Homo sapiens: one gene and its partners. The protein of the gene in region 4 interacts with the protein of the main gene of each other region in a pairwise test. Each region holds a gene or a part of one and is shown on either strand. Other genes may lie near its edges.

Evidence for each region.
Region 1: the proteins of SAMD4B (region 4) and CCDC179 interact in binary tests that used the Homo sapiens proteins (3 or more experiments, as listed by UniProt).
Region 2: the proteins of SAMD4B (region 4) and RSRC2 interact in binary tests that used the Homo sapiens proteins (3 or more experiments, as listed by UniProt).
Region 3: the proteins of SAMD4B (region 4) and BCL2L10 interact in binary tests that used the Homo sapiens proteins (3 or more experiments, as listed by UniProt).

Annotation. Positions count from the first base shown.
Region 1 is NC_000011.10:22,857,473-22,865,403, forward strand, and holds the start of CCDC179 (coiled-coil domain-containing protein 179), read right to left. Parts: upstream 3,003-7,931; 5' UTR 2,950-3,002; coding exon 2,905-2,949; intron 2,025-2,904; coding exon 1,980-2,024; intron 555-1,979; coding exon 450-554; intron 1-449.
Region 2 is NC_000012.12:122,516,919-122,523,941, forward strand, and holds part of RSRC2 (arginine/serine-rich coiled-coil protein 2), read right to left. Parts: intron 5,382-7,023; coding exon 5,225-5,381; intron 4,515-5,224; exon of another isoform or gene 4,511-4,514; coding exon 4,467-4,510; intron 3,664-4,466; exon of another isoform or gene 3,594-3,663; coding exon of another isoform or gene 3,586-3,593; intron 2,134-3,585; coding exon of another isoform or gene 2,112-2,133; coding exon 1,921-2,111; intron 513-1,920; coding exon 309-512; intron 1-308.
Region 3 is NC_000015.10:52,109,770-52,116,950, reverse strand, and holds the start of BCL2L10 (bcl-2-like protein 10), read left to right. Parts: upstream 1-4,175; 5' UTR 4,176-4,224; coding exon 4,225-4,713; coding exon of another isoform or gene 4,714-4,783; intron 4,784-6,977; coding exon 6,978-7,103; coding exon of another isoform or gene 7,104-7,144; 3' UTR 7,145-7,181. UniProt on the Homo sapiens protein: Promotes cell survival by suppressing apoptosis induced by BAX but not BAK. Increases binding of AHCYL1/IRBIT to ITPR1. Reduces ITPR1-mediated calcium release from the endoplasmic reticulum cooperatively with AHCYL1/IRBIT under normal cellular conditions.
Region 4 is NC_000019.10:39,338,066-39,345,425, reverse strand, and holds the start of SAMD4B (protein Smaug homolog 2), read right to left. Parts: upstream 3,006-7,360; 5' UTR 2,850-3,005; intron 1,302-2,849; exon of another isoform or gene 1-1,301.

The DNA of each region.
Region 1 (7,931 bases), on a different chromosome or scaffold from region 4:
AATAATCTGGACACTGACACCTTTCAGTAACATTAACTCGCTATGGATCATAAACCTAAATGTAACATACACAACTGCAAAACTTCTAGGAGATAATACATAAGAGAACTAATGTGACCTTAAATTTGGCAATAAATTTTCAGATATATAGCCAAAAGATTTAAGTGATTAACCTTATGTAGTCATCTAACATATGGCAAAACAAGAAGTGGAGTCCAGAACAACCTGGTTTCAAAGATAATCCTCTTTTCATTAAACCATATCACCTCCAGGAGATGACAGCAGAGGATATTTAAATAATAGATGAGATAAGACTTTTAAGACTGAAATTAGAAATTTCTCAAAGAGAAAGGGAAAAAGAAAATTTATAGTGAATATTACATGAATTAAAATGATGATATCAGTTGCATTTAATGATCTGTTAATTTCAGTGAAACCTCTATACTTACTAGGAGTCCTGGTTCTGGAATAGGAGAAGGCCTTGAAAACCTTTTATTCAGTCTCCTCTTCTCTTTCTTTAGGTGTTGCATATTCTGAATACGTTTATTTGCAAGCTTTAGAAAAATTAAAATGAAAGAAAAATCATACTTTTTTGTAACATATAAAGGTAACATTCTGATTACATTTTTGGTTTGTGTCAATAAAAAAGGTAAACACCACCACTGCAAACGGTTCACATAACTACATAGAAATAGGGCGAAAAATCTCTTTCATTCAAATGTATGGTTCATAGGTGAAGAAAACCACATTGGAGCATCAGTAGGGTTTTCAAATAAGACTATTCTTGATTCTCATCTTACCACTGCATACACTTAAGTAGATCCAGACTCATGGATTAGTGTGCTTACTTTTGCTTTAAAAATAATGTTCATTAAGGACACCTAGGGAATTTTCTCTATAGAAATATGAAAACAATTATTCACTCCTTTGAAATGTTGCATGACACACATAGCTTTTTATGCCACCATTGTGTGGCGTCTACAAGTAGCAGATACCTAGGAGATCAAACTAGAATGCTTTTAAGATAATGAAATACAGTAATAGAATAGAAAGGATATGAATAACAATAACTTTTTTATCCACTTCCAGTGAAGTATCAATTGGTACAATTGCTTTGAAAACCAACTTTTTAAAAAATCCACTGATAACAGAATATAAACTTGAACAATTGCTTTGAAAACAGTGTGGCACTACTTTCTAACAATAAAAAATTTGCTTTTCCTATGATTCAACCATTACACTCCTGCCTAAATAATCAAATGGCATTCTTGTGCATGGGGCAAGAAGATGTGTACTAGAATGTTTGCAATAGTACTATTCATTTTAGGAAAATGTAAAAATAACACAATGTCCATAAACAAGAGAAAGGATTAATGAACTGTGATATGTTCCATGACAAAATATTGAACAGCAGTGAAAATAAAGAAACTATATACAGCAATGTAGATAAATCTTAGGAAATAATATTGAGAAAAAAGAGTAAATCATACACTAAATTTTGTGTGATCCTATGTTTATAAAGTTCAAAACCAAGCAAAAGCAAATAGTGCACTTATAGAGACACCTATGTAACAAACTATTAAAGAAGAGGAAGAGATTGATGTAGCTAAAATTCAAGATGGAGGTCACCTCTGGGAGAGACCTTAGGAGGTAGAATAGAAAAGCATTCCCTAGCTGGATTCAGAAATACCTAATATTTTAATCCTTAAATGGGAGGCATATTGTAATTTATAAATTATATCTGCCACATCTATTTTTGTATATGTGTCAAATGTTACATTAAAAAATAACATAAGCCATTTAGTTTACCCTAGTTAAGACCCATTCCAATAGTAGTCATTAGATCCCAGAGTCCCAAGAAATATACTGAAGTGTCTACTTAATACAAGTTCTATTATGTTAGGGACCACTACATAAAGGAACAAGTTACAAGCACAATGTTTAAACAACCAGAACCTAGTTCTTTATTTAAACATTACCTGCCGCTCAGTGACCTCTGAAGGATGATGTTGTCTTGGTCCTTCCTATATAATAAACAAAATTAAAACACATTCACACAAAAAAGTCATTAAAAACAGTAAATTAATTATTATAATAGGAAGCCTATGCTACTTTTAAATTTATGTATTATATGAATCATTTCAACTATAAGAAGCAGGTTAAAAAAACAAAAAGAAAAAAGTCAAGTTCAGAATAAAAACATCTAAGATAAAAATTGTGGTGGAAGATGGAGACGATATTATGATAAAAAAGAACCAGCTGTGAACCACCTTACAGATAAAAGGCAGAGTATAGAGATATATTCGGGAGGGAAAGAATGTACGAGAAATCGAAAAATGCATGTTTCTGCTTCTACAGGACTTCAGTGGTGCTATTGAGCAATCTAGTCTTCAATCTGGTTTCAAAGCCTAGGAGTAATTGGTGATGTGATTGAGATCGTATGGTTTTCTGAAGCACAGGGAGCTTGGCTGTTAGTTTTCGAGATTCTCACCACTTCCTCTATTTCTTGATTGTACCTTAAATAACTCCTCCTTCACTCGTTTTGATCCAATCTTTTAACCAGAAGACCCAAGAGCAATCTGTTCCACATCTGGCAATTGAGAACTTTATCCTGCTCCCTACTTCTGTAATTTCCACTCCACCTCCTAGGGCAGGCCAATGGGGCAGTCAACATACAGGTGATGTACCTGACCCCTAAGCACACAGTGGGTGGAGCTTTTTCTTGTTTCAGAGGGGTCCAGCAGTCAGGATGTAGTCTGTCTACATCACCTGGAATTTCCCAACCCCCAGCACCAAACCACATTTACAAGAGTTAGAAGCACCATGGCCAAGGCCACAGTGGCCTGGAGCTCAAGGCACAGGACAGAGTGGCAGAGTTGAGGTTGTAGGCCCCAGCAGACTCACAGGGTTGACTTGGGAAGGCTCGATGTCCCAGCAATACAGGCACATGCCGTGGAGCCTTAGGGCGCCCCCTGACGCCTACTGCCTGTCCTGGACCAAATGATTATGGGGCCCCACACCCACAGCCTTCAAGCCCTGCCCCACCCAGTTCCATCACTATTCTCTTTATTCTTCTCCCTGCTATGGGCCCCACCCTTTCCCCAGTTGTATTCCAGTCCAGTGCAGGGAAGGCAAGGCCTCAAGTTGTCTGCAGTGTCTTTGAGTTATGGAAGTCAGTTTACCATAATTCCTTATATCCTATCCTTCTTCCTCAGAAAATTGCAGAATACCAATTTCCCACCTTTTCTACCCTTCATCTCTCTAGTCTCTCTCTTTATAAAGCCCCTTTCATTTGTTAACATATCTAGCTTAGTCTCCATGTTCTCTTACTTCAGACTGTCTATCTATTGTTAGGGTTCTCAATTCCACCACCTCATTGTTGTTCCTTCACAGCTTCTAGTTGGGCTGACCCAACTGTCTGCCTTCTTCCCATCTATCTATACCAGATGAAGTGAGGAGAAGCTTGAAGATGGCTGGAATACATATTTGTGACCCCAGATCTATTTATTTATTTATTTTCTTTTTTCTTTTTTTTTTTGGCCAAGTCTCTCTGTCGCCCAGGCTGGAGTGCAGTGCTACAATCTTAGCTCACTGCTACCTCCACCTCACTGCTACCTACACCTCGAGGGTTCAAGCAATTCTCCCATCTCAGCCTCCCGAGTAGCTGGGACTGCAGGCGCATGCCACAATGCCTGGCTAATGATTTTGTAGTTTTAGTAGAGACAGGGTTTTACCATATTGGAGGCTGTTCTCAAACTCCTGACCTCAGGTGATCCACCCGTCTTGCCCTCCCAAAGTGCTGAAATTACAGGCGTGAGCCACCAGGCCCGGCCGTGACCCCCAATTTAAACTGGGTCCTCAAAGCTGCTTAAGACTTTTATGTTGCACCAGCTTTTTTTGTGCTCTGCAGTATTCCCTTCAAATTGTCTTCTATTAAAATCTCTGAATCCACCAACACTCAGGCACTTCCAGTAGAAGTGGGACAATCCGTGCTTCACACTCTGATGCTGGTGAACATGTATAGAGCTTACTATGCTCAGCACTGTTACATGAATTTATATGTGTTAACTGATCAAGTCTTTAGACCACTCAAGGTGGGTAAGGGCATGATTATAATCACTGGGAAACAAGGCGCTAGCATGTTAAATTGCTTTCTTGAAGTTACGCTATTAGTAAGAGGGTGAGCTGGAATTTAAATCCAGGGTTGGCCCTTAGATCATGTGCTCCTAATTATGTGCTATGCTACCATTGCTTTTGAAGCCCTCACTGGGGCTACCTCAATACCACCTAAAATCCTATAACCTTGTCAATATCCACATTATCCTTTTCCCTGTAACCCTGTCGAAATGGAAAAAAAAATTGGTATCCCTTCTGTTGCCTCAAATAAATCTATCCATTTGCATTTGCATGCCATTTCCCTCCTAGGAGCCTCCTCAGATCTAGCTCTACAGATTGTTCCTCTCCTTGTTAACTTCTCTATATTGCCTCTTTCCTTTAAACATTTCATTACTGTAAGTTCAAATCTCCCCCTCTCCAAACTAATAAAGGAAACTCCTTAGAACAACAACCAATTGTATCTATTGCCCATCCCCTCTATATAAAGTAAATATTCATGAGAGTGGTCTGTACCTCTGCCTCTTCTTTATGTTCAGTGTAAGATTTGGCTTACTGAAACCTGTTTCAACTCCCACTGTTCCACTGGTGCTTTTCTCAAAATGGTTAATCAAATGATCTTTCTCCTGAATTCAATGGACAGTTTCTATCATATGATTTTTGTATCACGTTAGAAACTGCTGAAAAGTCTTTCTGATGAGTTAGGCTTAGAAAAAGTAAACAGTTTTGCCCAACTGTAATGTTCAAAATCATTATCCATGCTCTTCTTGAAACTCCCCTCTGGGAGCAATAAGTTGTAGAAAAATCATATAAACTTCCCCATTATCACAAACCAGGAATTGACTTGACACACTATAGAAAATGTTTTGAATGCTACTGTCACATATCATGCCAAGTCCTATGCATACAAAATGAATAAATTATTGCCCTCAAAGGCAGTCAGATAGATTAGCAAAAACAAAAAGGTAGAAAATGTATAGTGAGCTTCAATAATAATACATGTTGTGTTGTACAGACATTTGGGAGCCCCTAATGCTCTCTGAAGACAGGCCCAAATAGCCTTCTCAGTGGAGTGGAGTAGCCAGAGTTTACCAGGTAGCTAAAGAGAGTGCATTTATGACAGAGGTGCAGCATGTCCAAATGGCAGTGTGTACAGATAAGTAACATGGGTTTGATGAATGTGTAACTGTTGTCATCACGTTTTACTCATCACATCTCTTTGCTTTTCCTCCTACCATATTTTGTATGGAAAAAAGTCAAAAGGGTTAGCAGGAATCAGGCACCATAAGGCTGCATAAAAGAATATTCCAGAGTCACATGTCTGAGACTTATTAGGAAGTTGGTAGTGCAACCCATAAGAGCCCAAATCCTATTGTAACTACTTGAAAACTCTTGTGACCCTGGCCAATTAATTATCATGCGTGATCCTCAATTACTTTCTCTGTATCTATAAAATGAGAATGATAATATCCAACAATATAGGGTTGTTATAATCATTATAAATAATATAAATAAGGAATTGGATCCAGTATCTGTTAGGTAGTGGTCATCGATCATGGTAGTTATGATTATATTTTACTATGGATTACATTGTAAGATTCTCCAAATGAAAAGAACCTTAGATATCATTCAGCCCAGTCTCCCACTGAATTGCCACTAAATGATGATATTGCCAAGGGGGTTACCGCTAAATGAAGACACTGCCTTCCCTTGGCAATATCTTCATTTAATGGCAATTCAGCTTGTTTTGATTAAATCAATGATGGAAAATTCAATCCAACCCATTCAATTTTTTGACACCTCTAATTATTGAAACTTTCTCACCTACATTGATTTGAAATATGTTACTCTATTATCCTAGTTATATTCTCAAAGTCCTCACTCAATAAATTCATTCTTTTCTACCTGATGACAGGGCTGGGGAAGAGGCTGGGATAGTCAGAGTTTGAAAGTTTGGAGGAGCAGCCCCATAAACTAGGAACCAGACCTCTGAGGAGGGGAACACTGCCAATCTGAGCTAGTGGATGGAGGGTAGTGGCGGAGGGAGGTGGCGGAGGGTAGTGGCGGAGGGAGGTGGGGGGTGGTCCTTCAGAGCTGGGGAATAGAGATTTCTTAGAAGCAGGCAGTATCTGGCAGGTGTTGGTATGATAAGGAAGAATGATAAAACCAATTCTGGGAATGTGGAAAGATCTTGGAAACTGGGAAGAACTGCTGCTAGAAACATTTGCTACTGCAAAGTCAAGTTTTATTGCTAGGATGGCAACATAATAAACAAACAAACAAATAAACAAACAAACAAGATCCTAACCCCTCCACTTGCCTTCCAGTCTCCTTCCAGTGCCACTTATTGGATACACCTTCCAGGACTCCAGTTGGCTAAATTTTCAGCTCTTTATCTCTAAAGAGAAATAAAATATGAACAGTTCCAACCCTGCCTTCACAAAGTAGAATATGAAAGAATGGATTTACATTTGAAAGACAACAGCTTAGTAAGTGGCACCAACCATCAGGTCCTAAACCACAAGCATTCCTTCAATGATACCTGTGTGATATAGTTTGAATATTTGTCTTCTCCAAATCTAGTGTTGAAATGTGACCCTCAGTGTTGGAGGTGGGGCCTAGTGAGGTGTTTTTGAGCCATGGGAGTGAATTCCTCAGGAATGGTTTGGTGCCCTCCTTGTGGTAATGAGTGAATTCTCATTCTATTAGTTACGGCAAGATCTGATGGTTAAAAAGAGCCCGGCACATCCTCCTCCTCTTGCTTCCTCTTCCATGTGACACAGCTGCTCCTCTGTCCCCCCCCCTTTTTTTTTTTTTTTTTTTTTGAGACGGAGTCTCACTCTGTTGCCAAGGCTGGAGTGCAGTGGTGCAATCTTGGCTCACTGCAAACTCCATCTCCTGGGTTCAAGTGATTCTCCTGCCTCAGCCTCCCGAGTAGCTGGGACACAGGTGCCCACCACCACACCAGGCTAATTCTTTGTATTTTTAGTAGAGACAGGGTTTCACCATGTTGGCCGGGATGTTCTCGGTCTCTTGACCTCGTGATCCGCCTGCCTTGGCCTCCCAAAATGCTGGGATTACAGGCGTGAACCACTACGCCTGGCCCCCCTTTTGTTTTATGCCATGATTTTAAGCTGAGGCCCTTGCCAGAAGCTGGCACATTGCTTCTTGAATATCCTGTAGAACTGTAACCTAAATAAACCTTTTTTCTTTATATATTACTCAGCCTCAGGTATTCCTCTATAGTATTGCAAAATGGATTAAAACATTCTTAGAATGGTTTCTATTCTCCCCACCTTCCATTGATAACCTTTATTATACTATAGTCAGCCAGTGTCCCACACAGGACAGAAATCTCAAAATTTTGATCAGGCCAAGTGTGATAGTTAACTTTATGAGTCAACTTGCCTGGGCCACAGAGTGCCCAGATAGTTGGTCAAACATTATTTGGAGTGTGGCTGTGAGGATGCTTTAAAATGTGATTGATATTTGAATCTGTAGGTTAAAGCAGAATGTCCTCCATATTATGGGGGAGTTTTATCCAATCAGCTGAAGTCCTGAATAGAAAGAAAGGGTGGCCCTCTTCCAATTAAGAGATAATTCTCCTGCTTGATGACTTTTGAACTGGAACACAAGCTCTTTCTGATTGTAAAGCAGCCTGCCTGCTTTCAGATTCAAACTGGAGCATAGGCTCTTTTGGACTTACCTCTGTCTCTGATTAGAGACATAAACAAATCCCTTAGGTAATAAATCCCTTTATATATAAAACAGGATACATATATATCTTTTAGTAGAATATATCCTATTGGTTCTATTTC
Region 2 (7,023 bases), on a different chromosome or scaffold from region 4:
CTGGGCTCAAAAAATCTGCTCGCCTCGTTGTGATTACAGGTGTAAACCACGACACCTAGCCAACAACTGCATTTTAATAGGCCTATTCATACCTGCACTTCGCAAGAGATTTATCAATCACGAGAATACCTGTGAATGCTATTCAAGTGGTTAGGTGTGTTCTTCATACGTTAGGTAATGACTAAAATAATTTTACCATAATCTATAAATAGAATTGTGACTCACAATTTTAATACTCTCTTACTGAGGAAGATAAACAGACTCTCTGAGGGTCCTATTAAATTTTATTCAGGATGATGGTCACCTACCGACTCCTACTCCTTGTCCTACTCCTGCTTCTAGTCCTATGCCTGTGTCTTGATCTTGAGCGGGAACGAGACCTGATCCGCCGTTTTCTTTCCCTGCTTCTGGATCTCGATTTCTTCCTCTCTCTGCTTCTGGATCTCGATTTCTTCCGCTCCCTACTCCTGGATCGAGACTTCTTCCGCTCCCTGCTTCTACTACGATGGCGTCTGAAATTAAAGTGCACAAATTTGTAATTACTTAAAAGTTGTGTTGTTTCATTTATACACATCATGAATTAGTTACTTGTAGTAACGCAATAAAGACAAGCAAGTAACTGCACTATATTATTTACAGAAATAAGCGAGATTTTCAAAGGAAATACTAACTGAAAACGAACCCTTCATTTTGTTTGATAATTTGTCCTAGAACATAGTAAACCTATTAACATGTCAAAAGCGTTCAATGCATCCTACCCAAATTTAAGCTTCCGTTTAATACTCTTCCCACAGTAGTTACAAATCTTAATACTTTAGTTTATCTACTAAAAATTTTTGAGTCTGATACCACACACAACCCACAGAATTCTCCAAAAAAAACCCCACCAAAAACCATTCACAAATTTGAGCTGTGATCCAGTTTCTCAAAAATCTTTTTATCTATACTCCAACATTAAAAAAAATCTAGATTGCAGTTTAGCAGCAAACACCAACATCACCATCGATGATGCAAAAGGACTGTTTATCAGCTTAAACCACACAGTTTAACAATATGATTTTTTCAGTGCCAGACAGATTAAGTGGTTAAAAATCTCAGCTGGGCAGAGTGACTCACTCCTGAAATCCCAGCACTTCAGGAGGCCAAGGCCGTCACACTGCTTGAGCCCAGGGATTCGTGAATAGCCTGCACAACATGGCCAAAACCCGTCTCTACAAAAAAATACTAAGAGATTAGCTGGGTGTGGTGGCGCATGTCTGTGGTCTCAGCTGCTTGGGAGGCTTGAGGTCAGATCACTTGAGCCCTGGAGGACAAGAGGCTGCAGTGTGCTGAGAGCACACCACTGCACTCTAGTTAGGGCAACAGAGAGACCATCTCAAAAAAGAAAATCTAGGCTGGGCACGGTGGCTCACACCTGTAATCCCAGCACTTTGGGAGGCCGAGGTAGGTGGATCACCTGAGGTCAGGAGTTCGAGACCAGCCTGGCCAACATGGCGAAACCTCATCTCTACTAAAAATACAAAAACTAGCCAGGCATGGTAGCACATGCCTGTAATCCCAGCTACTTGGGAGGCTGAGAAAGGAGAATCACTTGAACCCAGGAGGCAGAGGTTGCAGTGAGCCGAGATCATGCCACTGCACTCCAGCCTGGGCAACACAGCAAGACTCCGTGTCAAAAAAAAAAAAGGGAAAAGAAATCTAGGCACTTGAGATTTAGTCATCCCTTACACCCCATTCTTGGAAACCATTTTTGCATGATGAGAAAGCAAAGCCCAAAGGCAAAAAACAAACAAAACCACAAACCCAAACAAACGAACAAGAAAAACTCCCTAATTATGATTTTTTTGGGTGTTGCTGGGTCAATGAGAAACTTTATGTAACTTGTTAGAAGGTACTACATTATAATACAACATGACTTACCTTTCACGAGACCTAGATCTTGAGTGACTTCTGCCTCTTGATGACTTTCTTTCTTTGCGTTTGTGCCTGTCCTCACCATTTTCAGATGAATTTAGTCGCTCTCTTCCTTTATCAGAAGAATGTTCTTTGTCATTATGTTCCTCAGACTTATGTTTCTTAGAGGATTTATCTTTGGATTCATGTCTTCTTCCCTGTTTTAAGAAGAAGTTGGTTCTTTCAGGAAAATAGTGCAACAAAGAGAGTTAGTATGGGTATCAGTAGACAAAAATGTTGTGATGCAACATTAGTAACCTTAGGAGTGTGTGGCAAATAAAAAAAAGATCTAGTTTCACATCACCCAAATGTTGCAGATGTAATTACTATTTTTTTTACTATAAACACCCAAAATGTAGTTCCTCCCCAAAATATTTTCAATACAACAGAAACAATGATTTTTAAAGTTGAAATATTGAAAAGCCATTATGCCAGACAAAAGAGGAATCCCTTATGTTTATCTAAAAGAATACAGACCATGTATATACATCAACTTCTAAATCCAGATTACATAATGTTAAGTTTAAGTAAGTAATGGAGATAATGACACAAAAAGTGCACCAGAAACGCATTTCAATTAGGTAGCTAAATATAATTATTACTAAGTACTAATATTTTCTATAATTTCAAATTATTTTACACAGAGATGCAGTGTCCCTTTTACAGTTATACTGCCTGCTACATCCTCTAAAAGACAGCTCTTGATTTTCCTCCCAATGTCTAAACTGTGAAGCAATCACTTTTCATCTTGCAGTATCCCAATAGGCTTAGAGGAGTATTACACTTCATGTACCTAGGGTAGAAATGGCAACTGTATGTTTCAATTTTAAAGAAACCAAACTAGGTATAACAATCCACATGCCATCACACAATACATACTGCCCCCACACTTTAAAAAGACCAAGGCCTTCACATGTGCATTCAGAGACTCAGCTCAAATTAACTGCATGATCAAGTCTCATCCTACCAAATACCAAAGTAGAAGTGCTACATACTACAGTTCCCTACAGGAAGATCTGTCAAATTCATCTTGTAGTGAAAGTTTAAAATCCTAGACATCTCTGAATCACTAAATTTTAATTCTGGAAGGAAACTAAGATCCTCTAACTTAATCCCCTTATTTTATGTATAACTAAGATCTAAAGTTACAAAGCTACATGGGTGAGCTGAACCTTCCCCATGTTTTTCTGATGCCCACGCTACCACTTTTCCACTGTAATAAGACACTACTGTCTCCCAAAAGGCCATAGCATGTTTCTTTCCACTCACGATTAATGTTTCTTAAAAATAAAACTTGGCCAATCATTTTGGAACATGCATGATGATTTATCTGAAAATGATCATAGTACATAATTTATTATTTGCAGAAAAATAAGAGACCTGGAGACACAATTAAATTTTAGTTTCATTGCCAGTTCTCTATAGGAGCTTAGAAAAGAAATTTTCCTTGGTTTTGCTATAACGAGGCAGACTGGAAAAGTCTTAAGTGGTTAAACTTCTAAAGGTTTTAAAGTTTATTTCAAACCAGTTTTTCAAACATAACATTACTATTAATTTAAAAAAAACATTAAAACCCTTAACTGATTTAAGATATATTTAAGGGAAATAGGAGTTTGAATGACTAATAGTTACCTTATCATGAAGTAGGCTTATTATTTTGCTATCTGAGTCTGCAGCGTCTTCAGTTCAGTCTCTTCGCGCATAAGCACGCTGAGTATGATTTATTATAGAAATGTTATCATGTGAGCTAAACAAAATAGTCATTTTCACAAAAACTCTCCTAAATTAAAAATTTAACAGAGCTTCCATTACGGGAAGAGGTGAAGTCCCTGCCCACTCTTGTTTTAGGAGTCCCTTACCCAGCCCCCACAAGACTCTTCTCCCTTTCTGGCTACTACTTCTACACTTCCTTATTGGCTCATTCTTTGTCTTCTCAGGTGGGTGAACAAGTAACTCCTTTGCAATACAGCTGCTGCCTTTCTTTTTCCTCAAGTTTTGGTGTCACCGCCACCTTTTCAGCTGTCCCTCACTCAAACCTTTATTTCAAAATTCAATACTACTATTAGGGAAACTGAACTAGTTTGCAAAAGAAAAGAGAACTCCTGTTATCGTTCATAAGGAAAAAGCAGCGCACAGATATCTAGGGTATTGCTATGTAAAGATGATTGCTGTTTAAAAATCCTGAGCAACTGTCAGGCACCAGGAGACTCGGGACCTCAGATTAATGGAAGCTCTGTGTGACAGGCCTAAAAAAACCAATCATATTCTTCATATGAAATTTTTATTGTGAATATTTTCACAATATAATAAAATTAAAGTTTTGAAGGTACTTTTCACATAAACATCTTCTTCAAAAATGATGAATCAAAATCATGCTTATTTTATAACCCAATAAACCTTTTAAATTTCAAGTTTTGTACTTACCTTGACAACGTCTTATATTCATACAAATCTTTCTACCAGACACTTTATAAGTATTTTAAAGTACCTATTCACTACAAAGTGTTAATTACCTCTTTGCTTCTGCTCCGGCTCCTGTGTTTTCTTCCTTCATTATCTGTGAATACACAAAAAAAATAATCACCATAAACAAAGTTGGAGAAACATTTCATCTTAAAAAACTCTTAATGCTGGAGAAAAATGACTCCCATTAGTCTTCTTCCAATGACTAATTTTTTCATGGCACGGGTGGGATTATTCTACATTAATACAACACACATGTGAAACAAATCAAGCAATCTGAGCAAACCAGGACATAAAGCAGCCTAGATACATCTTTTAAACGGTCATAGACTTTCAGTATTTTACATATATTCTGACCAGCCCATCTAGTTTCCTAGTCTACAGCAAATTCATAAGGGGGTTTAATAGAGAGAGGTAAGCCATTAAGAAAAATAAAAACTAAAGAAAATAAACAGGTTGAATTATATTTGATATGTTCCAACATGGTGAAACCCAGTCTCTACTAAAAATACAAAAATAAGCTAGGCGTGGTGGCGCACGCCTATAATCCCAGCTACTCAGGAGGCTGAGGCAGAAGAACTGCCTGAACCCAGCAGATGGAGGTTGCATTGGGCTGAGAGTGTGTCAATTTTTGTATTTTTGGTCCTGGCTCAGGTGATCTGCCTGCCTTGGCCTCCCAAAGTGCTGGCATTACAGGCTTGAGCCACCATGCCCAGCCAACAAACTAAATGTATGTGTCTTCTTATACAACAGGTCTACATATCTTATACAAATGCTGAGAGTTGTAACCACCTTTAAGAATTCATACCTGACTTTCGTTTTCTTTCTCTTGACCTTGATCGTGATCTTGAATAATGATGTTTTGAAGCTCTAGGAGAAACAGATACTTCTGACTGCTCTTTTTTCTTATCTCTATCTGGTGATGTCTTTTCTGGGGCTAGTCCATCTCGCTCTGTATCACTAGCCTAAAAGTTTAAAAACAAATGATTAAAGTTCTTAATTACATTTTAAATGTTTTCAATTTCTTAAAAGAGGGACAAAGGGAGGGAAGATAGCCCCCCACAATCAATAAATCAGAATGCCTGCTTTCCAAGTAACTAAATGTGCTTTGTACACTAATAAGGCTGAATGGCTTGAAATGACGAACCTGATACTAAAGCAAGACCTACATATTTAGACTGATGTATCTTTAATTTTCTAACGATGATTTGTATAACTTTTAAAACATGGGGTGGGGTGGGGGAGGAATAAGGGCTCCAAGTAGTTCTAATAAGCATTCAAGCAGAGAAAATAGTCCTTTTTAGATGTGTGAATGCATTTAGCTGACTTTACCAATACTTTTAAATTAGCATACATGTCAAACATCAAAAATGAGTTGTTAAAGCTTAAAGATACTCAAGACGATAAAATCTTAAAACAATGCCCTAAGAATATTATAAAATAATAAACAGAAAATTAACTTACCTAAGTGAGAACCTCATCTTAATGTCATTAACCCTCTTTAATGAAAACAGCCCCTTGGCACAGTGCTGCTGCAAAATATGGTCTGCCTCTCCTCACATGTGCTCTGGGCTATGAAAACATTAAGTTGTTTCTGCTTTAAAGCATTTTATAAGTAATTATTACAATATAAATTTTACAAGTTTCAACTAATGCAGAAGGTAGACAATGCTCGGCTATCTGACCAGAGAAGATAACATGAAAATAAAATAATTGATACACCTGGGGAATTGATTACTTAGGAAGGGTTGGCAAGCTATGGTCCTCATTCTGTTTCTGTATGGCCTTGAGCTAGGAATGGTTTTTTACGTTTTTTAAAACTATTTTAGGCATATTTAATAAATAACTTCAGTAAATAGCACTGTAAAGACTGAACTGTTAAAACTAAAGGCACTTAAAACGCCAGTGTTGTGGCTCATGCCTGTAATCCTAGCACTTTGGGAGGTTGAGGCAGGCGGATAACCTGAGGTCAGGAGTTTGAGACCAGCCTAGCCAACATGGTAAAACCCTGCTTCTACTAAAAACACAAAAATTAGCCAAGAGTGGTGGGGCGTGCCTGTAATCCCAGCAACTCAGGAGGTTGAGACAGGAGAATGGCTTGAACCCATGAGGCAGACGTTGAAGTGAGCTAAGATTGCGCCACTGCCCCTCCAGCCTGGGAAAGAATGTGACAGAGACTGCACATGGCCCACAAAGCCAAAAATATTTACCGTCTGGCCCTTTACAGAAACAGTTTATGGACTTTTCACGTATAACATCAAACGGAATCTGGATTGAATAAATAGGGAATCGATAGTCTTCAGCAGGAGGAATCACATTAGAGAACTTCCTCCTTTAGGAAAGTTAGTCCAGAAAATGAATACCAAATATCAAGTACAATAAATGGGGGTATTGTATTTTAACAAATTTTAAACAAGTATCAAGTACAATAAATGGGTGTATTGTACTTTAATAAATGAAGTTGTGAGAGGTCGAGTTACTTCAACAAGTATTTACTAAGGGTCAAAAATGTGCCAAAACCAATGCTAGACTTAGGGAATAAAATGATAAATTAAAAACAGAAAGGTTTTGCAGTTCAATTATGAGATGAAAGACATAAATTACGTG
Region 3 (7,181 bases), on a different chromosome or scaffold from region 4:
CTCTGACTCAAAAAAACAAAGAAAAAAAAAAAGAAAAACAAAGGTTTTTAAAGGAAAAAATGAGGAGGATTACATAATGGTTTTGAAATAATTATCCTTGGCTACAAATATCAATAACAAAGGTCACACCAGTCCGAGGTTGGACAGGCAGTTGCTAGGCAGATGTCTTTGCAGAAGTAATTTTTGTGTGAGGTTGCAGCAGCCTATGTGCAAGGTTGTAATTTTTGCAGAATCTTTTGTGATCATTTTTGGTATTAGGCATACAAGCATGAGAATCCCCTCTTCATGGCCTCCCCAGCTCTATTTGTCATGGTTTGTTTTTTTAAAACACTAGTGACTCTATTTGAATTCTAACAACTTTCACATTCCCAACACAAATGATAGACATTTAAGGGATTAATATGCTAATTACCCTGATCATTACACATTGTATACATGTATCAAAATAACACACTGTACCCCATAAATACATACAATTATGTGTCAATTAAAGATCATTATTTTTAAAAATAGGACCAGAAAAAAAGATGCAGACCCTCTAGTAAGGAGATGGGATCAGGAGTGATTCCATGGTTAATTTAACCCACATAAACAACTAATCGTAAGTATGGTATGAGCGTTTATGTAAAGACTGTGACAACAGGAAATGTCTGTCTTTGAACCCAAGGTTATCTAACCAGCACACCAATGGTGAAAGATTAACTTTGTCAGAAACCAGGAACCATGAAGCAGAGGTCACTGTTTCCAACCTGTGTGTTTTCCACGGTAATTGGCAGCCTCCCCAAGGGAAATTAAAACATATGTCCACACAGAAATTTGAATGCAAATGTTCATAGCAGCATTACTCATAATAGCCCAAAGCTGAAACAGCCCCAATGTTCCACAGTGGATGAATCGATGAACAAAATATGGCGCATCCACAGAATGGAATACAAAGAAAGAAAGCGTGGACACATGCTGCAACATGGATGAACCTTGAAAATATTGTGCCAGGGGAAAGAAACCAGAGACAAAGAGCCACATGTTGTAGGATTCCATGTATATGAAAGGTCCTAATAAGCAAACTCATAAAGACAAAAAGCAGATTGGTGGTCACTTAGGGCTAGGGTGAGGAGTGACGGTTAGTGGGCACTGAGTTTCTCCGGGGGGAACTGAATTAGATGGTGGTGATTGCACAATTCTGTGAATAGACTAAAAACCACTGGACTGTAAGAGGGTGAATTTTTTGGTATATGAATTACATCTCAATAAAGCTGTTACTTAAAACGTGGAAAAAATAATAAGCAGTCACTAGCTATTCTCAATAAAACAGAAACCACATAGGTAAGACCAATATTGTCACATTTTGGTTTTGGCTGATAATGGGGCAAGTGAGCATAGTCACCGTTGCCAGAGGATTTACCATTTACAAATAAAAGTTTCTGTGGAGTGACAACCTTTTACTGTGTGCCAGGTACTGTGCTAAGCACTTTGTATATACCGATTCATGTAATCCTTGTGACAGCCCCGTGATGCCCCATTTTTAGATGGGGAGATTGAGGTTAGGAGAGTTGAATAACTTGCCCATAGCTGCACAGCTTCCAAGTTGCAGAGACAGGATTTTCACCGAGTCTTATTACAAACTGCCTCATATTGTGTGGACTGGAAATTCTATGTTGAGGTTAATTTATTCATTTGTTGTTTAGTTCTTTTCATCATTGTTGAGTTACCAATGGCAGTTCCAGAGGATTTATCATTTACCCCAAAGCTACTGCAAATCTAAGAGAAAACAATGTTCTTGCTGCTAAAGTTTAATGTACAAAAAGGTAAAATCATGACTGTCTTGCAAATAAAACATGAACATGTATCCAAGCTTTTAACTCACTGATTAATAAGGAAACCAGTAAGACGTCAAAACCAGTTCAAATGGGAATTTGATGTACAGAAATTTATATTCTAACAACACTTATTTAGTTCACTGTAAGAAATCATTTGCTTTGGCAGATTAGGCACTCAGCAGAAGCACCAGCCAGCTCAGCCTTTGGAGGGAGAATTCCATGTTGTTGGACCCATACATATCCTCTGTCCCTGCTGCCAAGAGCTCTTTGTTCATCGGCCCGTTGAGCAGACACCACAGCAGCTGCATAGAGAGGCTGGCTGACAGCCACAGAGCATGTAATTCTGTCCATCTGATTCAGGGTCTTCTCTGCAGTGGATGCCCTTTGGTGGGCATTCAGGTGAGATGCAGATATCTTCAGTCTGCCCATTCGGAGGGATTCAGCCACATATCTCTTTCCAAGATTTTCTTGTCACCAATCTTCCAGTCCTGTTCTTTTTAAGGCCCTGACCATCCAGCTAAACCATCAGCGACTGTCCATGAATCAATTTAGGTCTGTATTCTGGCCATCTCTCACTCCAGACATAGTGGACAGCCTTGAGTTTCTGCTCACTGGAAGGATTCTCCTTCACCACTGCCCTTCACAGTCACCCCTGAGTGAGTGTGAGTGAATACTGCAGCTGTTCTCTTTCATGTGGTACCAGCACATCATACAGACCCATCTATAATCCAGGCTGGAGGTTTTTCTCCCTCAGTCAACTGGACATAGGCAGCATCCCAAGAAGCCATAGTTGTAGAATGAGGGAGAGGAGGCAAAGCAACAGGAGTTGATGTTGGAAGAGTCTGAGCCGCCTGCTCATACAATTTACTTATACCTTCTGAACCTGCCTGGGCTGTTTCTAATACACCATTTCCATTTGATGATAGGTGGCTGCTGTATACATCCAATTTTATGGCTACGTAGGTCAGATGACATCCAGTTCATGATGGGAGCTCAAGCTTCATGGTCAGGCATTCTGCCTCTATCAAGGCCTAGTAGCAAGGCAGAACCTGCTTCTCAGAAGGAGAGTAGTTATCTTCAGAAGAGGTTCTAGATTTACTTTAGAATTCTAGAGGTCTGTACTCTCTCCTGTCAGTGCTTGCCAGAGGCTCCATACAGCATCCCTGTTGGACAAAGTCCCACTGGATCTGTTGGATCACAAGACCCAAGTGGTAGGGCAGCTTTACTGCAGCCTGAACCTTCTGCAGAGTCTTCTCTTATTCTGCTCCTCAATCCACCAGCCTGTCAATTGGGTTGAAATAGCACAAACACAGTATATGTTGCCTTCAAAGTCCAAAATGGCTTACTGTTCCAGGCTGTGTCCCCCAAAATTCATATGTTGAAATCCTAACCCCCAGTGTGATGGTATTCAGAGATGGGGCCTTTGGGAGGTATTAGATCACAAAGGTGGAGCCCTCACGAATGAGATTATTGTCCTTATAAAAGAGACCCCGGAAAGCTACTCCACACCTACTGCAATGTGAGGACACAGCAAGAAGCCTGTTGTCTATGAACCAGGAAGCAGGTCCTTACAAGACACAGAACCTGCCAGGGCCTCAACCTTGGACTTTTTAGCCAACAAAACTGTGAGAAATAAATGCCTTTATTTATAAGTCACCCAGTCTATGGCATTCTGCTATAGCCGCCTGGACAGACTAAGACAGCTGCCAAGTGCCGTGCCTCTTTTGTAGTGATGCAAGATGCAGCAACTCATCTTTCACCCTGGGAGGGCTATTTCAACATGCTCCAGACCCCTGAACCCCCAGAAATACCACTGCTAGTATCCATTCTGCATCAGTCTGGATCCAATCAGGAGAAAGAAGCCACGGAGTAATATGAACTGAGAAAGTTTAATATAAATATTAGATGGCCGGGCGCGGTGGCTCACGCCTATAATCCCAGCACTTTGGGAGGCAGAGGCGGGCGGATCACGAGGTCAGGAGATCGAGACCATCCCGGCTAACACGGTGAAACCCCGTTTCCACTAAACAATCCAAAAAAATTAGCCAGGTATGGTGGCGGGCGCCTGTAGTCCCAGCTACTCGGGAGGCTGAGGCAGGAGAACGGTGTGAACCTGGGAGGCGGAGCTTGCAGTGAACCAAGATCGCGCCACTGGAGCTAAATAACCCGAGTCTCACAGTGCATCTGATTGCTACGCGAACACGTGCGCACCACCAGGCCTTGCCTTGGGGACTGGAACAGGTGCAGGTGGGATTCCCATCAAAGGCTCTTCTCTCAGTCCTGAAAAACAATATACCGGGGGCCGGGGGCCGGGGGCCGGGGCGGGGCACGGCAGCCCTACCCTGGGGGAGGCGCGGCCGGGCCAAGAAAACCAGCGAAGGCCCGGCCCCCCAGCAGAGGCCGGACCATGGTTGACCAGTTGCGGGAGCGCACCACCATGGCCGACCCGCTGCGGGAGCGCACCGAGCTGTTGCTGGCCGACTACCTGGGGTACTGCGCCCGGGAACCCGGCACCCCCGAGCCGGCGCCATCCACGCCCGAGGCCGCCGTGCTGCGCTCCGCGGCCGCCAGGTTACGGCAGATTCACCGGTCCTTTTTCTCCGCCTACCTCGGCTACCCCGGGAACCGCTTCGAGCTGGTGGCGCTGATGGCGGATTCCGTGCTCTCCGACAGCCCCGGCCCCACCTGGGGCAGAGTGGTGACGCTCGTGACCTTCGCAGGGACGCTGCTGGAGAGAGGGCCGCTGGTGACCGCCCGGTGGAAGAAGTGGGGCTTCCAGCCGCGGCTAAAGGAGCAGGAGGGCGACGTCGCCCGGGACTGCCAGCGCCTGGTGGCCTTGCTGAGCTCGCGGCTCATGGGGCAGCACCGCGCCTGGCTGCAGGCTCAGGGCGGCTGGGTGAGCACGCGGCGGACACCGGGACACGGGGCGGGACGGGCAGCCGGGAAGCGCCCACGAGGCTGGCACGGTGAGGAACCCACCGCGCCAGGCCCCTGGAACGAGGTTTCGTGAAAGCAGAAAGGCTCGTTTCAGCGGGCCTGGAACGTTCGCTGTGAAGTCTGGGGTTTCTCCTCCCCTGGCAGAAAGGCCGGCAGAAATCGGCCTTCTTAGACGGCCGTGAACCGTTCCGAAGCAGCTGCGCAGGCTTAGGTCTGCTCACTTGGACCTTGCCCTGGCCTTAGCCGTCGGGGACTTTTAGGGGGGCACCCACGTTAGGTCTGAACGTTTTGCTCCTATAGAAATCCCCAACCAATGAAGTCAGCAATGGCGGGGCCCCAGCCAGGTGGGGTGTTTTTCTCCTTCGCCTATTAAATGCGCCTTTGGAGAGACTCAGACCCATTGATCACAACCCCCTACGCCTCTCAGCCTGGCCAGAGAGGTTGTGGAGTGTGGTGGTCGCCCAGTGGTGGCGCTGACCCAAGGTTCCTTAATTTCTAGTCCTCTGCACCCAGTCCTCGGTGAGAACGTTCTAGGCCCCTGGCTTTCAGCTGCAAGCCTTCATCTCTGTGGTCAAGGTTAGAGGGACAGGCCCTTGCCCTGCAGCTGATGATCAAGGAAAGCCACCTGGTGATGAGCCCACTGCATGCCTCTGGGGGCTCTGAGCTAGACCCCATTTCTTTCCCCACCACCTTATTGGCGTTGATTCAATGACTGAAGTGGCCCATGTTATCGGATACCTATAGCCAAACTATTAAAACCAGCAAGTTTTTTGATCCGAAATGTAGCCTCCTGGGGGCAGTTTCCATTTAGACCTTTTTCTTTTTTTCTTTGAGGCGGAGTCTCGCTCTGTGGCCAGGCTGGAGTGCGGTGGTGGATCCCAGCTCACTGCAACCTCTGCCTCCCGGGTTCAAGGATTCTCCTGTCTCAGCCTCCGGAGTAGCTGGGACTACAGGCGCGCCCCACCAAGCCTGGCTAACTGTGTGTGTGTGTGTGTGTGTGTGTGTGTGTGTGTGTGTGTGTGTTTTCAGTAGAGATGGGCTTTCACCATGTTGGCCAAGATCTCGATCTCTTGATCTCGTGATCTGTCTACCTCAGCCTCCCAAAGTTCTGGGATTACAGACGTGAGCCACCTCACCTGGCCCCCATTTAGACTTTCTATAGTGACAAGTTGGGTTCTATCTGAGAAGGGAAAGGGAGTGGGAGGTGTGTTAGCAGGAACTCCTGCCTTGTTCATAATGTTAGTGTTGGTCTTCAACCCTCTGGGCCGGTGAACTCCCTTCAGCTGCGTGCCTAAGAGCCTCACCTGAGCCCTGTCTCAATACGGCATCTGGCCCCTCCGGGCTCTCTGTACCTGAAGAAGAGATTAGAATTGGAAAGGGGCCGTTGAAGCCTTTTTTTGTTGTTTTTGGCTAATCACTGTTGATGAAAGAATAATCTCTTAACACCAAGGAGCTGAAATTCTTGGCTGGGTGCAGTGGCTCGCACCTGTAATCCCAGCACTTTGGGAGGCCAAGGCAGGTGGATCACCTGAGGCCAGGAGTTCAAGACTAGCCTGACCAACATGGTGAAACCCCCTCTCTACTAAAAATACAAAATTAGCCAAGCACGGTGGCAGGTGCATGTAATCCCAGCTACTAGGGAGGCTGAGCCAGGAGAATCGCTTGAACCCAGGAGGTGGAGATTGCAGTGAGTTGAGATCTTGCCATTGCACTCCAGCCTGGGCACCAAGAGCGAAACTCTGTCTCAAAAAAAAAAGCTGAAATTCTCAAATTGGGTAAACATAGTTCACCCTTGTCTCTGCCCATTGCAGTTAAAATGCCACAGCCTGGAGTTCAATTCCCTTCCTAAATGGGGTTGGTGCTTGCTGTAGTGTCAGGTGATAACTTTTCAATCTAGTGACTTGACAGTTTCCCAAAAGGCATCTCTTCTTTGCTCAGAAAAGAGCATAATAAGCTACCTTCCTCTTGGTTTTGAGTCAAGATATGAGTGTTCCTGCACCAAGTGACAAAGTTAAATGCTTGCTTCTGTTCACTCTGTTAGACTTACCAATCCTCACTCCTCAGGGGCTCCTCATTACTGGATGTGTATTGGTCAGAATTTCCTTTCCTTTTACTTTTTAAATCCAAACTTTACTTTGCTGTTTAATCTGGAAGTTCCTGCGTGTTTTGAGTGAGGTTCTCAGCATCATGAGGCAATCTAACTTTTCTCTCTCCCCCCTGTAGGATGGCTTTTGTCACTTCTTCAGGACCCCCTTTCCACTGGCTTTTTGGAGAAAACAGCTGGTCCAGGCTTTTCTGTCATGCTTGTTAACAACAGCCTTCATTTATCTCTGGACACGATTATTATGAGTTTTAAAACTTTTAACCCGCTTCTACCTGCCCAACTGTGACCAACTAAATGACAGATGTGTGAGAACAAGAACTGAG
Region 4 (7,360 bases):
GGGTAGCCAGAAAGAGAAAGCACTGAGGAAGATCTGAAAAGAAACCATTCAAAAGTAGAATCGGAAATAACTGCTCAGAGGATGGAGTAACCTTGTGGAGAAGCCAAGATCCTTTCAAGGTAGGTAAGAAATCTTTCTGGAGGATGGGTACTTCATAAAGGGGATTCCTAGGAAACAGGAAAGCAGCAGTGGGCAGTAGGGCACAGAGGCATACCCTGAGGCATCTTTCAGGGGGCTTTTAGTGAGGAAAAGGAAATCCTCCTAAAGGGCACAGGTTCTCAAACTTGCGTGTGCATCAAAATGACCAGGAGGGTTTGTTAAAAACTCTTGATTGCTGGGCCCTGCTCCCAGGTTTTCAGTTTCAGTAGATCTGAGTGGGATTCAAGAATGTGTATTTCTAACAAATGTGGCTGCTGCTGGGCCAGGAACCACACTGAGAACCACTGCTATAGGGGAAGGGATTATTTGGTGAGGAGGTCCTCAAAGGGGAGAAGGAAGAAGGCTTCTGAAAGGGAAATGGGGAGAATCCTAAGTCTCTAAGGAGGGTGTTAAGGGTCTCTTGATCTCTGAAGGGAAGAGGGGTCTATGAGCATGGCACCTAAGAAAAATGGTCTGAAAGAAAGATCTCGGAGCACTGGGATTTCAAGGGGGCGGGGAAAGGTGTCTCTCAAGAATCTTTACAAGGAAACATAGAGGCTCTTGGGCAACGAGTCTGGAGAATGTTGGGGACCTCTGAAGGGATAATGGGAAAAGGGGGCCCCCTGAGAAAGGTCTCTGAGTTGACTTCAGAGGAAAGAGAATGGGGAAATGAGAGGGTGTAAATAGCAATTCTAAAGTTAGTGGGTAAATCTGATAGGGTCCTAAATAATGTTTCTTGGGGATGTCAGAAGTGGAATCTGAGGGAAAGTTCTGAGGAAGTCTCAGGAAGCGCTGGGAGTGGGTGGCTGATGGAGGGCAATTTGGGAGAAAATTCTCTAAAAAGTGTCTGAGGAAGGTGTGGTCTTCTGAGACTGGTCCTGGAGTGGGATGACAGAGGGATGTTTTTAGGAAAAACTCTTCAGAGATCTCAGTTGAGGAGAAAGCTGAGTAAAGTCTCCAAAAGAGTATATGGGGAAGGCGGGGTCTTCTGAGAGAGTGTCAGAGGAGAGGGTTTTTCAGAAAGAATTATAGGACTTTCTCAGAGCAAGAGCTCGGGTTATTTTGGGGGAAAATTAGGTGTGTGTGAGGGTCTTCTTCAAGGGATTCTAGAGGATTTAGGGGACCTGTGTGAGCAAGTTCAGGGAGGGATATCTCTAGAAAAGTCCCTTAGTAAGGCAGAAGTATTGATTCAAGGGGTTCTGGTGGTGTCAGGAAGGTCTTGGAGGGATTTCAAGAACATACGTCAGGAGGGCTCCAGGGGGTCGCTGGGGTCTCTAAGCTGTGTGTGTGTGTGGGGGGGGGGGGTCCTGAAAACCTGCATATCAGAGGGGTCACCAAGAGAATCTTACGGTCTTACAGGGGTTGTGAGGAGGATCTTCAGAAAATTCCTCTAAAACCGGTCTGCAAGGGGGGATTCTGAGGTGTTAGTGAAGGGGAGTTCTACGGGATCTGAGAGAAAAACCATGAGGAAAGTTTTCAGGATCCTTAAACAATTTTTGGAGCGTGTGATGTGGGGGACTGGAAAAGATGTGGAGTATGTAAAAGGGATTTTGGAAGAAGCTTTTGGAATATGATGCTGAGAGTCCTCTGGAGATTTCAGGCAATTGCTGGAGATTTTTAGAATGAGTGGGGGTGGGGAAGGGGATCCCGGTGAAGATCACTGGGCTACATGAGGGTGATCTCTAGGGCATTTTAGGGTGGTGAGACCAGGGGGAGACAGGAGGCCTCTGGGGGAGACTTTTGGGATCTGTGGAAAGGTCCAGAGGGATACGTGAAGGGGGAGTGTGTATGAGAGATGGTTGCAATACGGTGGGGAGGGGGATGGAGTCTTCTAGGTGAGTTTTTGGGATCTGGGGGCATTTCACAAAGTCTGTGAGGAAGATTTATTTTGGGGATATGGGAAGGAGATCTTCAGGGAAGATGATCACGGTCCGTCGGGGGCATTCTGAAGGACTTCTGGGAGGGGGAATCAGAAATGCAGGGGGTATGAGCGGAAAATCTCCAAGGAGGTTTCTGGAATGGGGTAAGTGGGAGGGAAAATTCTTAGGATCCGGGAGGGGGAAGTCGGGTGAGCCTGTTGGGCTGTGAGAGGCAGGGCTCCGGGGGAGAGTTCTGGAATGGACAGGGGTCCGGAGGGAGCCTTGGGGAGGTGTGCAGGGCTCGTGAGGGAGGCTCCTGGAGCAGCTATGAGAGCCACGCTGTGGAATGGACGAGGAGTGGCCTCCGAGGACTATTTCTGGAGACAGGAGGAGGACGGGGGCTTCGGGGCCAAAGGGCGGGGGTCTGCGAGGAAAGCTGCTGGGACCCATGAAGGGCTCGAGGAGGCGACTCCACGGGAGGGGTGGGTTTTGCGGGGACCTTTCAGGGCGCACACGGGGGATCGGCAGGCTTTCCGGGGCTCTCCGAGGGGGATGTGCGGGGGGTCCTGAGGAGAGGCCCCCGGCCCGGCCCCTCGGCAATCCCGAGGGCATGAGAAAGATTTCGGAGGGAAGCTTCGGCCAGGGCCCAGGAGGGAGACTGGGGACGGGCGCGGGGCTTCTCCCGTGGGGCCCGGCCCCCCGAGGCCCGCGTTCCGCACCCGCCCGCCGCCGCCGCCCGCGGTTCGGGGTCCCTGAGGGGGCGGGGCCGCCCGCGCGGCCTGGGTCGCCCTGAGGGGAGCCCCGCGCGCCCCGACTCGCCGCCGCCCCGCGCCGGCCCGGCCCGAGACTCACCGCCTCGGCCTTCGCCGCCACCGCCGCCGCTCGGGCCTCCTCAGGCCACCGCCGCCGCCGTCGCCCCCTCTCGGGCCCGCAAGCTCCCCTCCCTCCTCCCGCACCGACCACCGCCGCCGCCGCCGCCGCCGCCGTCGCGCTGCGTCACCGCGCCGTGCGTCACCGCCCCTGGCCCCGCCCCGACGGGGGCCGCCGCGCGCCGGCATTAGCTCACGCCCGGGTGACGAACGGCGCGCCAGCCAACGGGCGGCGAGGGCAGCCCGAAGGGCGGGAGGTGTGAGCCGAGTAAGGCGGGGTCGCGGCGAGGGGGGAGCGACGGTGGTGGAACGGGGCCCAAGAGGCCCGCCCCCTCCTCGGCGGGATTGGTCGGACGTGGGGGTGACGGGCAGTCGGCCAGGCCTGGGGTTTGGGGCTGGGGGGCGGGGAAGGGGCGGGGCGCGCGGGGCGTTGCCCAGGGCAACGGGCCCGGCGGAGTCTGAGGTTGGGCCTCCAGGCCCGCAGGGGGCAGGCTCGCGCGCGTCCACCCCAGCTGCCCCGAGCGAAGTCACAGTTCCTGATTCAGGCGTTCCAGGCCTCCTCTTCCCCGCCCCTTGGGTGGCCCGCCTCACCCAAGGCTGTCCTCAGTGGGCGTCTGCACTCGGGCTTCTGGGCGCTCGGCTTTCTCATCGCGCTGTTCTCAGCCTTGCCGCTTGCTCTCTCCGATGGGAATGGCGAGGCGAGATCTAGCCTTTAGGGTGGGAAGAGAATGCACAGAAAGCGCTAAGGATCAAGGAGGCTGTCAATAAACGGGAGTTGTTGCTGTGACTTTGGTTGTGATCTGTGCGTTCCACAAACTGTATTGGGTCCGGGTGAACTAATCAGAGGGACCTGTGTTCAGAAGGCTCTCGGTGACAGAGATCTGGCTTGTTACAGGCACTTAGAGAGGCAGTCGGGATGGAGGGTCGAGTTGAAGACAGGGAGGGGTGAGGAACGAGCAGAGGCCAGTTGTTTGGCCACTTGAGGGAGTTTGGACTTGTCCCGAGGGCACTAGGGAGCCGTGAAGGGCTTCAAGCCGGGGAGGATCATGGTGAGTCTGGGGTTTTGGAGAGATGTCTCTCTGGCTTATACATGGAGGGCGGATTGGAGGGAATGAAACGGGATCGGGAGTCCAGGGAGGCAGCTGGGGGAGGGGGTGGGGAAGAAAGAGGGGGTTTGCACGAGGGAGGGACTGTGGGGAGGGAAGGAGGTGCAGGTGGGAGGGACGCCCTGGAGGCAGAGCGAACGGGCCCTGACACTGGCTGGCTATGGAGTGGAAGGGGGAGAAAAGTTTAGGACCAGGCCCCTCTAGCCGGGAGACTGGGCGCCAGAAGCAGGTTGGGAAGATACTAAGCCCAATGTGGATGCCTAGTAGCGAGGTCCAGGAGGTGCACAAACCCTGGGTCTGGAGCTTAAGGGAGAAATTGAGGCTGGAGACCAAGATTTAAGGATCGTCAAAGATGGTAATTGAGGCTGTGGGAGTTAGGGGTCTAGCCCGGGGAGGGTATGAAGGGTCACTGGAGACAGGGACTGAACAGAACCCTGAAACAGAGAGGCAGGATTTGAGCAAAGGAATTGACGCTGTCGATGAATATTGCAAAAGGCAGCCAGAGAGAGGAAAACCAGGAGAGTGTGGCATTATAGACGCTTTGAGGAAAGGCTGTTTCACCAGGGTGGGGCCATGTCACAAACCCCATCCACTACCTCCTGCATTTAAGCAACAGCCTTCACACTGCATAGAATTATTGTGCTCATTAACTGCTGGTTCATTAATTCATTCAATAATATTTCTTGACTATCTAATATGTGCCAGGCTCTGCTTAAGGTGCTAGAAACACAACAATAGGATGAGCGCGGTGGCTCACACCTGTAATCCCAGCATTTTGGGAGGCCGAGGCAGGTGTTCGAGACCAGCCTGACCAACATGGTGAAATCCCATCTCTACTAAAAATACAAAATTAGCGGGGCGTGGTGGCACATGCCTGTAGTCCCAGCTACTTGGGAGGCTGAGGCAAGAGAATCGCTTGAACCCGGGTGGCGGAGGTTGCAGTGAGCCAAGATCGTGCCATTGCACTCCAGCCTGGGCAACAACAGTGAAACTCCGTCTCAAAAAAAAAACAAAAAAAAAACAAAAAGACTTACATTCTAGTTCTTGGGGACACAAACAATAAGGAAATACAGTGTAACTTCGTGATAAGTACCAAGGAGAAAAAGAAAGCAGTGGCTGGGCATGGTGACTCATGCCTGTAATCCCAGCACTTTGGGAGGCTGAGGCTGGTGGATCACTTGAGGCCAGGAGTTTGAGACCAGCCTGGCCAAAGTGGCAAAACCCTGTCTCTACTAAAAATGCCAAAAATTAACTGGGCATAGTGATGCGTGCCTGTAGTTCCAGCTACTCAGGAGGGTGAGGCAGGAGAATCACTTGAACCCAGGAGTCGGAGGTTGCAATAAGCCGAGATTTGCCATTGCACTCTAGCCCAGGTGACAGAGCGAGACTATGTCTCTAAATAAATAAACAAATAAATAACAAGAAAGCAGCTAAGGGAATGGAGTAATGCAGCCAGAATTAATTTACATGGGGAAAGGCCTCTTTCATTAGGTGAGACTGAAACAGAAATCTGAAGGAATGAAGGAGAAAGTGGGTTCCAGAAAGAGAAAACAGCAAGTGCAAAGGCCATGTAGTAGGATCATTCACAGAACCACAAAGGGGCCAGCATTGCTGGAGTGGAGTGAGCAAAAGAGGGCAGTGAAGGACAAGGTCCAAGAGGCAATGGGGTAGGGGTGGTGACAGATAACTTAGTATTTTAGTCATTGTTGGTGTGTGTGTGTGTGTGTGTGTGTGTGTGTGTGGGGGGGGGGGGCAGGGTCTCACTCTGTTGCCCAGACTGGATTGTAGTGGTGCGATCGCGGCTCACTGCAACCTCGGCTCACTGCAACCCCTGCCTCCTGGGTTCAAGTGATTCTCCTGCCTCAGCCTCTGGAGTAGCTGGAACTACAGCCGTATGCCATCAAACCTGGCTAAGTTTTGTATTTTTAGTAGAGATGGGGTTTCACCATGTTGCCCAGGCTGGTCTTGAACTCCTGGACTCAAGTGATCTGCCTGCCTCGGCCTCCCAAAGTGTTGGGATTACAGGCGTGAGCCACTGCGCCTGGCCTGCTGTTTGGTTTTTAGAGATAGGATCTTACTCTGTCACCTGGGCTGGAGTGCAGTGGTGTGATCCTAGCTCACTGCAGCCTCAAACTCCTGGGCTCAAGTGATCCTCCCAACCTCAGCCTCCCAAGTAGCTGGTACCTGGGATTACAGACACATGCCACCATGCCCGGCTACTTTTAAAATTTTTTTGTAGAGACAAGGTCTTGCTATGTTGCCCAGGCTGGTCTTGAACTCCTGGTCTCAAGCAATTCTCCTGCCTTGGCCTCCCAAAGTGCTGGGATTACAGGCATGAGCCACTGTGTCTGGCCCATGGGAGGGTTTGAGACCAGCCTGGCCAACATGGTAAAACCCTGTCTCTACTAAAAATACAAAAATATGGCTAGGCGCGGTGGCTCACACCTGTAATCCCAGCACTTTGGGAAGCTGAGGTGGGCTGATCACGAGGTCAGGAGTTCGAGACTAGCCTGACCAACATGGTGAAACCCCGTCTCTACTAGAAATACAAAAATTAGCTGGTTGTGGTGGCGCACACCTGTAATCCCAGCTACTCATGAGGCTGAGGCAGGAGAACTGCTTGAACCTGGGAGGTGGAGGTTGCAGTGAGCCGAGATTGTGCCACTGCACTCCAGCCTGGGTGACAGAGAGACACTCCATCTCAAGAAAAAAAAAAAAAAATTAGCCGGGTGTGGTGGCTCACGCCTGTAATCCCAGCTACTTGGGAGGCTGAAGTGAGAGAATCGCTTGAACCCAGGAGGCGGAGGTTGCGGTGAGCTGAGATGGTGCCACTGTACTCCAGCCTGGGTGACAGAGCGAGACCCCTGTCTCAAAAAAAAAAAAAAAGAAAAGAAAAAAAGAAAACCAGGCAAGTGTGGTGTCATGAAGACGATGTTTCAGGGAACAGGGAGTGATGGGCTGTGTCAGATGTGGCTGAGGAGGAGTGAGAATTGACCATTAGATCCAGCACCGTGGAGTGCATGGGTGACCTTGACAAGGGCATGTCAGCTGAGAGGAATACAGGTGAAAGGCTGATTGGAGAAGGCAGAAGAGAAAACTGGGAGGAGAAATTGGAGGCAGCAATGTAGATTATTCTTTTGAGAAATCTTTTTTTTTTTTTTGAGAAGGAGTCTCACTCTGTCACCCAGGCTAGAGTGCAGTGGCGCAATCTTGGCTCACTGCAAGCTCCGCCTCCTGGGTTCACGCCATTCTCCTGCCTCATCCTCCTGAGTAACTGGGACTACAGGCACCTGCCACCACGCCCGGCTAATTTTTTGTATTTTTAGTAGAGACGGGGTTTCACCTTGTTAGCCAGGATGGTCTCGATCTCCTGACCTCGTGATCCACC